Homo sapiens: one gene and its partner. The protein of the gene in region 1 interacts with the protein of each later gene in a biochemical or structural test. Each region holds a gene or a part of one and is shown in the gene's direction. Other genes may lie near its edges.

The links. Proteins that work in one complex are often made in the same cells at the same time.
Region 2: the proteins of MPDZ (region 1) and OR1D2 interact in a test that uses a peptide from one of them, tested with the Homo sapiens proteins (one study listed by IntAct).

What each region holds. Positions count from the first base shown.
Region 1 is NC_000009.12:13,269,676-13,276,703, reverse strand, and holds part of MPDZ (multiple PDZ domain protein), read left to right. Parts: exon of another isoform or gene 1-130; intron 131-7,028. UniProt on the Homo sapiens protein: Member of the NMDAR signaling complex that may play a role in control of AMPAR potentiation and synaptic plasticity in excitatory synapses. Promotes clustering of HT2RC at the cell surface.
Region 2 is NC_000017.11:3,101,401-3,108,538, reverse strand, and holds the start of OR1D2 (olfactory receptor 1D2), read left to right. Parts: upstream 1-4,116; 5' UTR 4,117-4,440; intron 4,441-7,138. UniProt on the Homo sapiens protein: Odorant receptor which may be involved in sperm chemotaxis. Bourgeonal is a strong chemoattractant for sperm in vitro and is shown to be a strong agonist for OR1D2 in vitro. May also function in olfactory reception.

The sequences.
Region 1 (7,028 bases):
ATTTTGAGGCAAAGTTGGACTGGAATGTCCCCAAATATGGTAGAGCAAATAGCACATCTGCCAGAGAAAGATCCTACACTTTAAAGAGAAGAAGCAGACAACTTCCTGGTGAATTTAGGACTGCTTGATGGTGCGTATGAGTGATGATATATGTCCAAAACAGTTGTATGTACTTTTGAAAATAGATATTTGGCCTAAAGTAGGATTTCATTTGATATTGTTACGTACATTATCAACCCCATATTTATAACAATAAAGGTTTCATTTTTTCTTGTAAATTAGTGTCATGCATAGGAGAGCATTTATATAAGTACAGTTCGGAAATGATATTTAGCATGGTAAAATTGATATACTGTGATTAAATAATTTTAGTGGGATTCCATGTGGGAGAATAAGACTAAGGAGGTAAATAACTACTTCTCGATAAAGGAAACCAGTGGTGAGGAATCCATTGCCTTCCTGTGATACGTTTCCAGAGAAGATCCGAGGTATTCATGTAGTAGGTAGTAATAGATGGATTAGGAAGAATGTTGTATTGGGTTAGGCATTGGGGAGAGTACAGAATAAACATGATTCTGCTCCAGAAGTGTAGGGTCTTAGTTGGAGGAATCTAATGGGAGAAATAACAGAAAGGTTTTACATGTTAAAAATGTTACAGGGATTCTAGGAAAGTAGTGAAGTATAGGGATTAGTTGCTCTTATCATTGAGGTTAGTAAATAAGACACAGAAAGGCTTTGGTCTTGAGATGAGAGGGTGGAAATGAAAGTTTTTTTGATATGAAGTAGAGCTTAAGTCAGTGGTTTTCCCTTGAAAATGGACATGTATAGAAGAGGCTGGGATGTGAGTGGGCAGTGGGTACTGGAGAGCATATTCAATTTGTATATTTCTGGAGTGGAATAGAGGATTTGTGCCCAGGGGAAAAGGTTGGATAGGGAAGAGCAATTAATGGAGAGCAATGAAGTATAGGCTGACTTTTATCTCTTGAAGTTTCCACTTTCCAATAACCCAAGTCACATTTCCTTCTGAGAGTTAACCTCTTCAGTGCAATCTGGGCTTTTTCTAACATGCACCCTAAAACGTTTGTAGCCATTACCTATTACCCAGTTCCAAAGCCACTTCCACATTTTTGGTGTTTGTTACAGCAGCACCCCATTTCCTGGTACCAAAATCTGTATTAGTTTGATAGGGCTGCCTTGACAAAATAACACAGAGTGGGTGGCTGAAACCACAGGAATTTATTTCCTCACAGTTCTGGAGGCTGGAAGTCTAAAATCAAAGTGTTGGTGGGATTGGTTTCTACCAAGCCTCGCTCTTTGGCTTGTAGATGGCTGAGTTCTCCCTGTTTCTTCACATGCCCTCCCTCTGTGTATGTCTATAGCCTAATTTTTTATAAGGGAACCAGTCATATTGTGTTAGAGCCCACCCCTAGTGACCTCATTTAACCTTTATCTCCAAATACAGTTATATTGTGAGGTACAGGGATTAGGATTTCCTGTGAATTTTTAGGAGACACAGTTTAGCTCATAACAAGGTTCTCAAAGAGACTTAGTGTGTAAACTAGTGAGACTCTGAGGCAGTGAGCTCGTATTGGAGGCTAGTGCATAGTCTGAGCATTACTGGGGTAATTTGATGTTTGGCAAGAAAGGGAAGCTGCTATTTGAGGACAAAGGTATTTTATCTTTGGCCTGAGGCCACTTATTTTCTTTCTCTGGATGTTCATTGGGAAATTGTGCCTCTGTGGCCTTTTTGTGGACAGAGCATTAATTTTTTTTTTAAGTGTTTTATAAAAGCATTCGTTTTCTTAAAATATTTCTTTTAATGGTTCTTAAAAATAGTAAAGCGCTAAATTTGGCAAAGCTGAAACACTGTGTTGTAAATGTCTCAGTGGTTTTTGAGTCTGATTAAAACAACAGAATTTATTCTTTAAATTCCATTGATCTAAAAACTGTCTGTCTTATACGTGTTTTGTGGGGTAATGTATGGCATAATCTTTTTTCCTTCAGAAATGTTTCCCCCTTTTGGGAAAATATGATTAATAAAAGGGAATTTATGTTACATAAAATAAAAACTTTTTTTTTTTTTTGTTTTTTAGGTGTTGCAATTTTATTTGTTGAGTTAATGAAACCATTAGAGCCATTCTTCCCAATCTGGCCAGCTAAGTTAAAAATAAATAAATAAATAAAAGGAGACAAACTCTTACTTTTTTTCTTCTGGCCTGTCTGCCTGTGGTGGTTAAATTTGTTTTGTTTAGGGAATTCTTATCTTTATCCACTTTTTAGTTTTATTTGTGTCTGCAAAAGCAACATTCATTGTTATTTTCTTGTAAACCACTCTGCCTCCAGATCCAAGGTGCTATAAATAAGTGCATGAGGGGAAAGTGAAAAATGAAACATTTATTAAAAAAGAAGAAAAAAAACCCAGTAACATCAACTACCAAAAAAAAAAATTAAGAAAAAACTTAATGTTGTTGCTTATGTTTTAAAATTATTTTGATAATAAAATACATAAGGTAATTATTTATTTTAGTAAATAGCACATTTTAAAAGGTATGGAAGATACAAGTGAAAAGAAGACGGAAAGCTTGCCTGTAATTAGATCACCCAGATACCACTCCCACAAGAAAATCCCCAAGACACATATTTTGAAAATGAAGATATTTAAGTTATTTTGATATAACAAATGGATAGAGCAGCTGTTGATCAATAGATTTCACCAATTGCTGCCTTTCTAAATGAGCATCATCTGATCTGAGATTATTAAATGTTATATAATTTGAGTTGATACTAATAGCATTTGTTTGAACTGATGTCTCAGGTCTTTTGAAGAGATATGATACAGTTCACTACCACGTGGCATGTAGGATACCAGTGGAGAACGTATTTTAAAAAATTTTGATTTCTGCTTAAAATTAAGTGTTAATAGTCAATGTTTATACTGATTATATGTTGAAATAATAATTTGAAGAAAGTGGGTTAAATAAAATATATTATTAAAATTAATTTCACCTACTTCTGCTTTTTTCTTTACTGTGGCTACAGACAAAATTACATATGTGGCTCACATGATATTTCCATTGGCCAGAGCTGATCTAGAATGATGCAGATCATCCCCTCTCCAACTCTTGGTGTGTTTGATAATCTGAATTGTAACATATACAGAATGGCAATTATTTGAATAATTTCAGCACCAAATTACTCCTTTGTTAACCAATTCACTATATTGTTAATTTCACAGTAACTTTATATTGTGTACTCAGGTGGCTCCATAGGATACCTTGCTTCAGGGAACTGTCATAGAAAATGGTCATGAGAAGCTATCCTTCTGTGTTCATAAGATATCACTAACGTAACAAAACCATGATGATAGAGTCATAAAGATTAAAGATTATTCTACAATTTAAAAACTCCTTTCCGATATATTTAAGATATGTCCAGTTTCTCTTATACCTTGCTAGGCCCCTGTTTTAGTTCATTTCGGGTGCTATAACAAAATATCAAACACTGGGTCCCTTATAAACATACATTTATTTCTCATAGTTCTGGAGGCTGGGAAGTACCAGATCAAGGCACTGGCAGATTCTGTGAATGGTGAGGGCCTCATAGATGATGCCGTGTTGCTGTGTCTTCATATGGTATGGAAGGGGCAAGGCTGCTCTCTGGTACCTATTTTATAAGGGCACTAATCCCATTCATTAGAACTCTGCCCTTGTGATCTAATTGCCTCCCAAAGACCCCACCCCCTAATACCATTACTTTGGGGGTTAGGATGTCAACATATGAATTTGGGGGGAATATAAACATTCAGACCATAGCAGCCCCCTTAATAGGTCTTGCTTTGTCTAAGGCATTACTGGGTAAATTTCATAAAGCTTATGTATTTCCTCCTCGGCTTCTCACTCCCCACAAGTGTCCCAGGGTATTGCATTTTAATAAGTCAGGCCTGAATCCACTTCTGGACAGCATTCATTTTCTTTTGTTCTTCTTTTTTTTTTTTTTTTTTTTTAGTAGGAACAGAGTTTCACCATGTTAGCCTGGCTGGTCTTGAACGCCTGACCTCAGGTCAGGTGATCTCCCCGCCTCAGCCTCCAAAAGTGTTGGGATTACAGGAGTGAGCCACCACGCTCGGCCTCATTTTCTAATTTGGGATTACAGGGGCCTCATCGATATGATTCAGTGGAGTGTTGTCTGACCCTTCCAACCCTTTCCCATCACATTCACAGTTTTCTGGGCTAGGAAATGCAGTTATCCTATGCTGTTTTACAAAACTATAGCATTGGAATGGCTCTTCATTCTGATTTAATCTATTGAATATATATCGGGTTAGACTAAGTCACAAAGTATTTTTAGCTCTTTGGCTGAGGGAGGAAAATGAGAAGAAATAGCCCTGGGGCCTGGGTTATTGCTCCCTAGCTAGCTTCATTAAGATGTTCAGTGAACATCTGTTGGATGCTAAAGTCAACCTATTCAGCCCCTATCCTTTTCTCAAGGAGGTGGGAGGGAGTGTTTAACTGTTTTATTGTGGTATAAGTTATAATTGTTTAACTGTTTTATTGTGGTATAAGTCATAATTGACAATAAACTACACATATTGAGAGTGTACAATTTGTTGAATTTTGGCTGTTTTGAAGCTATCCCCCACAATCAAGATAGTGAACATATCCATCACCCCCGAAAGTTTCCTCATGCATCTTGGTAGTCCTTTCCTCTACCCACCCCTCCCATCTCCAAGTAAACTACTCATTTGCTTTATGTCACTGTAGATTAGTTTGCGTTCTCTAGAGCTTTAAATACATGGAATCATACAGTATGTTCTCTTTTGTCTGACTTCTTTCACTATGTGATTATTTTGGGATTCATCCATGTTGCCTGTATTCATAGTTCAGTACTGGTCATTGCTGAGTAGTAGTCATTGCATGGATATACCATTAAAGAGTTTTTAAGTCATTTAGAACTCTCCTGCACTTCCGTTGTCTTATGGTGCGTATTCATTCTTGGTTTTGTGAGGGAGGAAAAATTTTACTCTTTGAGGTTCTATAAGTGAGGCCTGTGAATTAAAACTAACAGAACACAGATTAACATTTAATTGATGTTTTTAATTTCATATTCATGGGGGCTACGCAGAAAAGAAGAGACCCAAAGAAGAGGATAGATTTGGGGTTTTTGCATCATTTTCATGATAAAAGTTGTTCTCACTGGTAAGGGAGAGATGATCATCTTTACAAACGGACATTTCTGTCACATTTACAAAGGGAATTTTGTGTTCTACTTTTACACAGAAAGGGCCAGGGGAGAGAGTGCTCCTGTCTTCCGTTTCCTATTTGCCTTCAGTTCAAAATAATACTGATGCCAAAGTAGCATATTTTGGAGTGGCATGTTCTGATCCCCTTTGGATTCAACTGTGTGAGTCCGACTTTTGTATTTGATGGTGTTTCTCAGTCTTCTTAAATTCATGCCCCATTTTGATAAACATAACATAGAAAATTTAAAGGCCCTTATTTAAATGTTGGAGCTACAAAATATGTAAGTCAATAGTTTAAAAAATACTACCGGTAATTGTAAAAAAGATTTAAAAATATTTAATTTTGAAAGATAGGAGATGATTAAGTAAAAAGTCAGGAGATTATTGAGGCTTTCCATAAACTTTTGTATCCTACCGTATGAAGAGTTTAAGCACAGCACAGTAGTTTCAGTATTGAACCCAATGCTTTATTTTGACTGCTTGCTAAATATTCCTCACCCACTTGCATGTTTTCTGTAATTCTTACCATGTTTGATAGATCTGTCACTCCTGTGACAAATGTATATGACAGTCATATAGTGAATTGGATAACAAAGGAGTAATTTGGTGCTGAAATTATTCAAATAATTGCCATTCTGTATATGTTACAATTCAGATCATCAAACACCCCAAGAGTTGGAGAGGGGAAGATCTGCATCATTCTAGATCAGCTCTGGCCAATGGAAATATCATGTGAGCCACATATGTAATTTTAAGTTGTCTGTAGCCACAGTGAAGAAAAAAGCAGAAGTAGGTGAAATTAATTTTAATAATATATTTTGTTTAACCCAGTTTCTTCAAATTATTCTTTCAAAATATAATCAGTGTAAACATTGTTGAGATATTTTACTTTCTTAAAAAAAAAAAAAAGCTCTCCAAAATATGCCATGTCTTTTACCCATGTCTTTTATCATATTGCCTTTAGAACTAGCCAAGGTGTAAGTGCCCAGTAGTGTGTTTCAGTGTGGCTCCTGGCTACTGTGTTGGTCAACACAGCTTTAGCTCATGCAGCTAAGCTATAAGGTCAGATGAAATCAAGAAATAAGATGTCTTCATTCTGTTATGAAAACCTGTTATGTTGGCTGGAACCACTCAGCCTTTTTTGGGTCATTTGTAATGTTTATATATTGTCTGTACCTTCTGATCACTTAATTGAAGTGACGAACAAAATAAATAAAACAACATTTAAAGCAGATGTCCTTTCTGGATTATTACGAAAGTAAAAGTTGGTTTGTGCTCTTAATATTAATGTTTAGTCTTTTGAGTGCCAGAGTAAAAAGCAGTTAATGGAGGCATTTAAATAGTAGATGAGTTAATTAAGAAGCAAATAGTCACGTTCATTGAAAGAATAAGCCCTTTTAAAATGCTTTCATGGAGAAAATATCACTTGTCAAGATAACCCCAATGAATCCTATAGAATTACATATGGTAACTAAATAGTGTAGCTTGTTACATTATCTGTGAATTAGTAATTAGGAGATCGAATTGCTGCATGCTTATTTATCTTATATGGCTAAGGTACGTGTTCAGATAGGTTCATAGTAATTTGGATTTCTTCATGCAATTTTCCCTTATCTGAACTACCTGGAATCTTGCCAGCAAGATGTAAATTGTCATTTCTTGCTGAATTTTCTTAGTGTATTCTCAGCAGTGTGGACTACCAATGACTGACAAGCTTATCAGCGGATTTAGACAGTAACATCTCTTTGCTGGCAGAGGACTACAGGGTTCTCTCTAGGAATTCTTTGGT
Region 2 (7,138 bases), on another chromosome or scaffold:
TTAAAGAGGAAAAGAAGAACCATCTCTGGTAGAGGTAACAACACTTGAAGCCACTGTAACCCTAGTATCCATGACTCCCAGCACATACTAAAAAAATTACTACACACAGGCAAGAGGCAAAATTACATGCCTAATAATTAAGACCAAAAAATAAAGATTGAAAGATGACTCTGATCTTAGAGGTGGCAGACAAGGAATTTAAGATAACAATTAGTATGTGAAATAGATAAAAAGATGAATAATTTTACTAGCAAATAGCATAAAGAGCACAATGGACATTCTGGATGTGAACACTACAGTATCTGAAATTAAGAACTCAGTGCATGAATTTAACAAGTTGGACATAGCAAGATACAGAATCAATAAACTAGAAGACAAGTCAATATAAAATACCTAAACTGAAGTGCAAAAAAAATTAAAGGAAGAAACCCCAGATACAGCCATAAGAGATAAATGGAACATGCACAGAAGGCCTAATTATGTATCACTGGAGTCCCAGAAGGACAGGAGAAAGAGAATGGAACAGGGTCATATATTTGAGAAGATAATTAACCAAGAATTTTTCAAACAGATAAAAGACATAACACTACAGGTTGAAGGAGCTCAGCAAATCTCAAGCAGTATAAATCGAGAGAAAACCAAACATAGGCATATTGGAGAAAACTACTGAAACCAAATATAAACGAAAACCCTAAAAGCTGTTGAGGAACAGGACAGGGTCTCAATACCTTCAAACAGCATATCTTAATCCATTCAGGCTGCTATAACAAAATAGTATAGAGTGAGTGACATACATAACAGAAATTTATTTCTCACAGTTCTGTCTGGAGGCTGGGAAGTTCAAGATCCATTTGCCAGAAGATTCCGTGTCTGGTGAGTACCCACTTCCTGATTCACAGATGGCCATCTTTTTGCTGCGTCTTTACATGTCAGAAGGGGACAAGGGAGCTCTCTGGAGTCTCTTTTAAAAGGACACGAATTCCAGCCAGGTGCAGTGGCTCATGCCTGTAATCCTAGCACTTTGGGAGGCTGAGGCAGGTGGATCACTTGAGGCCAGGAGTTCAAGACCAGCCTGGCCAACATAGTGAAACCCCGTCTCTACTAAAAATACAAAAATTAGCTGGGCATGCTGGCACATGCCTATAATTCCAGCTACCCAGGAGGCTTATGCAGGAAAATTGCTTGAACCCGGGAGGTGGAGGTTGCAGTGAGTTAAGATCACGCCATTCACTACACTCCAGCCTGGGCTGTGTCAAAAAAAGAAAAAAAGGAAATACTGAAGAAGAAGAACAAGCAAACCATATAGCAATCCTATTAGAAGATATAATAATTAATATGTAGACTATTGATATAAGGATAGGCAAACTGACAAATGGAAGAGATTAAGATTCCAGAAACAGATTCATATATATAGTCACCAGACTGATGATAAAGATTTCCACTGTGATGGAGCAGGGAAAGGACGGCTTTTCTCCAAATGGCACTGGATCCGTTGAATATCCACACTTCAGGAAGAAAAATGTATGTTGATCTCTACCTCACCAAATATAAATATCAATTCCACATTGATCACAGATCTAAATGTGAAAGGTAAAAGCAAATCTTCCTGATGAAATCATAGAGAACATGACAAAAATTTAGCAAAGATTTCTTAAGATATAGACAGCACTAATTATTTAACAATTGATAAATTAAAACATTAAAACTCTTCTATTTCTCTAACGGCACCATTAATTGAACAAAAGCCAACCCACAAAGGTGGGTAAGATAGTCTTGTTACAAACATCTGACAAAGGCTCATAGCCAGAAAATATGAAGAATTACAAATCAACATTTAAAAAAAACCAGATAACCCAATAGAAAAAAATGAGAAGAACACTTGAGTAGGTGATTTACAAAGACAATATACTTTTGGATAATAACTCTATGAAAAGTGCTTAACTTCATTAGTCATCAGAGAAATGTAAATGGAAATCAGCAATTCTACTCTTGGACATATATTCAAAAGAAAAGAAATCAATGTATCGAGGAGATATCTACACTTCCACGTTTACTGCATCACTATTCACAATGGCCAAAATATGGAATCAACCCAAATGCCCATCAAAGGATGAATGAAGAAAGAAAATATGGCATATATACGCAGTGGAATATTATCCAGCCAAAAAAAAAATGAAATCCTGTCCTTTGCAGCAACATAGATGAAACTAGAAGTCATTATGTTCGGTGAAATAAGTCAAGCACAGAAACACAAATATTATATGTTGTCACTCAACATGTGAAAGTTTAAAAAGTGGATCCCATGATGATAAACGAGCAGACTGGTGGTCACCAGAGGCCAGGAAGAGTGAGGGGAGGGGGAGGAAGAAATGTTGATTAATAGGTACAAAAGTACAGTTTGATAGAAGCAGTAAGACTGAATATAGTTTACAATCATCTATTGTATATTTCAAAATAGTAAAAGGGGAACAATTCAGATGTTTCTAGCATAAAAAAAGACAACTATTTAAAGTGATATATATCCCAATTACACCAATTTGATCTTGACAAATTTTATGAAGATATTAAATTATCACATGTACCTCTATTATGTATCTTTTTTTAAAAAAAAAAAAATTCAACCATGGCGAGATACCGCTATACTCACCACAACAGCTAAAATGAAAAGGATGAAAAATACCAAATCATGTTAAGGTATTGAGCAACTAGAACTCTCATACACTGCTGGCAGTAGGGAAAATTGATACAAGTCTAGTACTTTGGAAAAGTGTTTAGCACTGGCTACAAAAACTATACATAGGCCTGCCATGTGATTTATAAATTCCACTCTTAAGTATATATGCCTAAGAGATATGCGTAGCTACACGACTCAGGACAAAAACCGGAAACTACTAATGCCCACAATGGGTGTTTAGTGGTCTCTTCACACAATAGAACACCATACAGCAATGAGCATGAACAACCTACAACCACATACAACTGTGTGGATGAATCTGACATATACAATGAGTGAAAAACGCCAACACAAAAGAGTACAAACTGTATACTTCCATTTAAATAAAGTAAGAAAATAGATAAAGCTAGCTTAATGATATTAGCAGTTAGGATAGTGAGTACCTGTGCAGGAACAGTGACTAGAAAGGAATATTTGGTCATTTCTGGAGGGTCAGTAATGTGTTTTTCATCTGAGTGCTGGTTACTCATGACTGGCCTGTTTGTAAACATTCCTGATAAAATTTTCAGGCTTCATTTTATTTCCTAAAATAATGTAGCATCATTATTTTTCCATCTATGTCTAATAACTATATTATCTAGAGTCCCTATATGCCTCCCCTGTGTTGGTTCTTGCTATTGGAATCTTCCTTGTGTCTTTTTATCTTTGGGTTTATGTTGGATATTGTGCTTGAAAAATTATTAACAGAAATAATTCTGTTATTTCAGCTCTAAGGTGACATTATGTTCCTCTAAATAGGATTTCTTTCTTGCTTTTGCTTAGTACTTTGGGTCACAGACATCTGGAATCATTCTAGTTGAAGTTTAGTACCTTAAATTTGCCAGACCTCTCCCTACTCAAAGTCAACAGGCAATACATGTAGAGTCCGCTTTATTTTTGGCTTACTGTTACTTTGGCTTACTGTTATATGTATTTTATCTTTTATTTTTTTTTTTTTCAGATGGAGTCTCACTCTGTTGCCCAGGCTGGAGTGCAGTGGTGCCATCTCGGCTCACTGCAACCTCCACCTCCCAGGTTGAAGCGATCCTCCTGCCTCAGTCTCCCAAGCATCTGGGACAACAGGTAAGTGCCAGCACGCCCAACTAATTTTTGTATTTTTAGTAGAGATGGGGGTTTCACCATGTTGGCCAAGATGGTCATGAACTCCTGACCTCAGGTGATCTGCCTGCCTCGGCCTCCCAAATGCTGGGATTTCAGGTGTGAGCCACCACACCCAGCCTTCCTAGGGTATATTTTAGGATTACTGCACAATAAGGAGCTGGTTTATTTCTTGTAAACAAGACTCATTTCCCAAGACCCTCACCTCTAGAGAATAACATCGGAGCAATTATCCATGTTCATCTCAAGAGGCTATCTGGGGATTGCATCCCCAAGTTCTCTCCAAAATGGATAAGCAGACCTGATGTGCTCCCTGTTCATCCCGTTTCTTCATGAATCTAGGATCCAAGACTCAGTTCTCATATCCCACAAATCTCATTGGGGCATCAATAGCCTGAAATCCTGTCTCCTTTTTTACAGAAGCTGAAGACCCAGGCAACAAGTTCTCTGCTCTGTACCTTTAGCCAATAGGATGAGTCTCCAAGACCTATTCAGAAAATAATGCATTCTGGTCTTTTATGACCTGAATGTGTTTTCATCCTGTAGAACAGGAACGTGGAGGAAGCTGAACCAGTGAACTCTGAGAGCAGCACAGAGCAGTGGGTAAGGTCTGTACATCTCAGCCTCATGCTCTTTCTCCCTCTTCTCTCTTATCTTCTCTCTTATCTTCTCTCTTCTCCATTTTCTCTGTCACACAAACATACTCACACACTTTGGGAACTCATGTAATCTCACCTCTTAGTCTTCAAAGGTAATAGAACAATCCCTTGAATCTTAGAAGCACTCTACAGTTTTCAAGGTACTTTCACATTCTCTGTTGCATGTAATTCTCACAGCCTGTGAGAATGACTACCTAGGTGAGAAGAGGGGATTTAGGCAGGTCGTGGGCCCTACTCAAGGTCATACAGCTAGGAAGTAACAGAAGAGGTACAAAGCCCAGTGTTTCCACTGCAAGCTTGGACCCCTTTTCCATATTGCCCCTACAATCTCCCCCCTCACACCCCAGCAACACAACAGAGGGGTCTGTGTCTCTGTGACCATCTGACCACATCAGTGTTCAGAACCCACTGACTCTTACAAACTCAGAGCAGTGTTTCCCAAAGTATAGCATCAGAACTACTGCATGCTTGCTAAAAAGAACTTGGTTCTCAGAAACAGGACTTCAAGAGAGACTTCAGGACTTCAAGAGAGAGAGTCAGAAAGTCAGAAAGTCAGCTTTTTGTTATGAAGCATCACAGGTGATCGTGATGCACATGAGTGCAGGAGATGCTTGCCTTGTGGGTTACAAAGCAGAGGTATCTGGCCAGATGCAATGGCTCACGCCTGTAATCCCAGATACTCAGGAGGCTGAGGCAGGAGAATGGCTTGAACCCGGGAGGTGGAGATTGCCGTGAGCCGAGATCGTGCCACTGCACTCCAACCTGGGCAGAGTGAGACTCCATTTCAAAAAAAAAGAAAGGAAAAGAAAGAAGAAAAAAGGAAGCAAGCAAGCAGAGGGATCAATTTCTCAATTTCCCTGGGAGTTCTCTGGCCTTCCTCAGTCTTGTCACCTGCCCTCTACCCTCCCTCCCATCAGCAGATGTCCCATAGAGCTCTGAATGGTAAGAACAAGACTGCAGAAAGAAGTCATTTGTGATGTGGGAAGCCTGTAATACCGTGTGCCCTCATCTTCTGTCTCCCCTGCAGTTGCACCATGAGGCCTGACACCAGGAGTCCCACCCTGACATCCTGGACCATTCCGGACAGACAGAGTGGGGTCCAGCTGCTCCTGTCTGAGAGGGCAGCAGAACCAGGATAGAGGCAAGACTGGGAACCCTGTTGCTCTTTGTACTGAGAGAGTGGGTTCCCTACTAGAAAGGGGTGGGAAATACAAGTTGGAGGAATGAAGAATAGGAGTCCCTTTGCCACCCCCATCACAGGCCCCTTCCAAGGACAATTAGGCTTTAAGTTTGGAGAGCTGCTTCCACATACAGCATTTCAGCTCTTTCTCCTGACCCCGGGGGAGGTGGGCATTATTGCTGTCCTCCATCCCATGGTAGAATAGTTAGATTGTGAAATCTGGAGGCAGAACGGGGGCTCAAATCCCAATGTGTCAGTTCTGATTGAGTGAATGTGAGAAACTCATTAACCTAAATCTCAGTCACCTCATCTATAAAGCAGGATAACAGAAACAAATAGCTCGTTGTTACAACGATATACGTCGTTGTAAATAAAAGATGTATATACATAGCACCGTAGGTATGTATGTATGTGTGTGTCTAATGAAATCGCAGTTTGTTCAAAAAATGCTTGAATTTGTTACGCTGGGGTTTGAACCCAAACTTCAGACTCAAAATCTCCTTCCACTATGCCACCTACCGTGGACATCTAGGAGTTTAACTTGCTACATTGAGGTAAGGAATTCACTCATTTGATGAATGCTAGGACTGCCATATACCCTCACCCCACCCCAAATCTGGCACTCCAAATTACTTTAATAGTCGAAATTACTCACAGTTCCCTCATCTCCATTTGCTTATTCTGCTGTGACTTCAAATTAACCATGTTTCAGATTGAATTTGCAGAACAGGCTCCATACTTCCCTGGCACACTGGCTGGTTTTCCAAAACATTGCAATAATATGTACAGTAATAATTAATATGTACAGTAATAACTGTACATATTTTGGGGGTACATGTGATATTTTGATACATGAATATAAGTGTAATCATCAAATCAGGATATTTAGGACAGTCATCACCTCAGACATTTATCATTTCATTGTGTTGGGAGCATTCTCTTTGTAGCAATTGTGAATGGAGGTTCATTCATGATTTGGCTCTCTGCTTGTCTATTGTTGGTGTAAAGGAATGCTTATAATTTTTGCACATTGATTTTGTAACCTGAGATTTTGCTGAAGTTGCTTATCGCTTAAGAAGTTTTGGGGTGGAAATGATGGGGTTTTCTAAATATAGAATCATGTCATCAGCAAACAGACAATTCGACTTCCTCTCTTCCTATTTGAATCCCCTTAATTTCTTTCTCTTGCCTGATTGCCCTGGCCAGAAATTCCAATACTATGTTGAGCAGGAGTGGTGAGACAGGGCATCCTTGCCTTGTACCGGTTTTCAAAGGGAATGCTTGCAGCTTTTGCTCATTCAATATGATATTGGCTGTGGGTTTGTCATAAATAGCTCTTATTTTGAGATACGTTCCATCAATACCTAGTTTATTGAGAGTTTTTAACATGAAGGGATGTTGAATTTTATCAAAATGCTTTTCTGCCTCTATTGAGATAATCGTATGGTTGTTGTCTTTGGTTTTCTT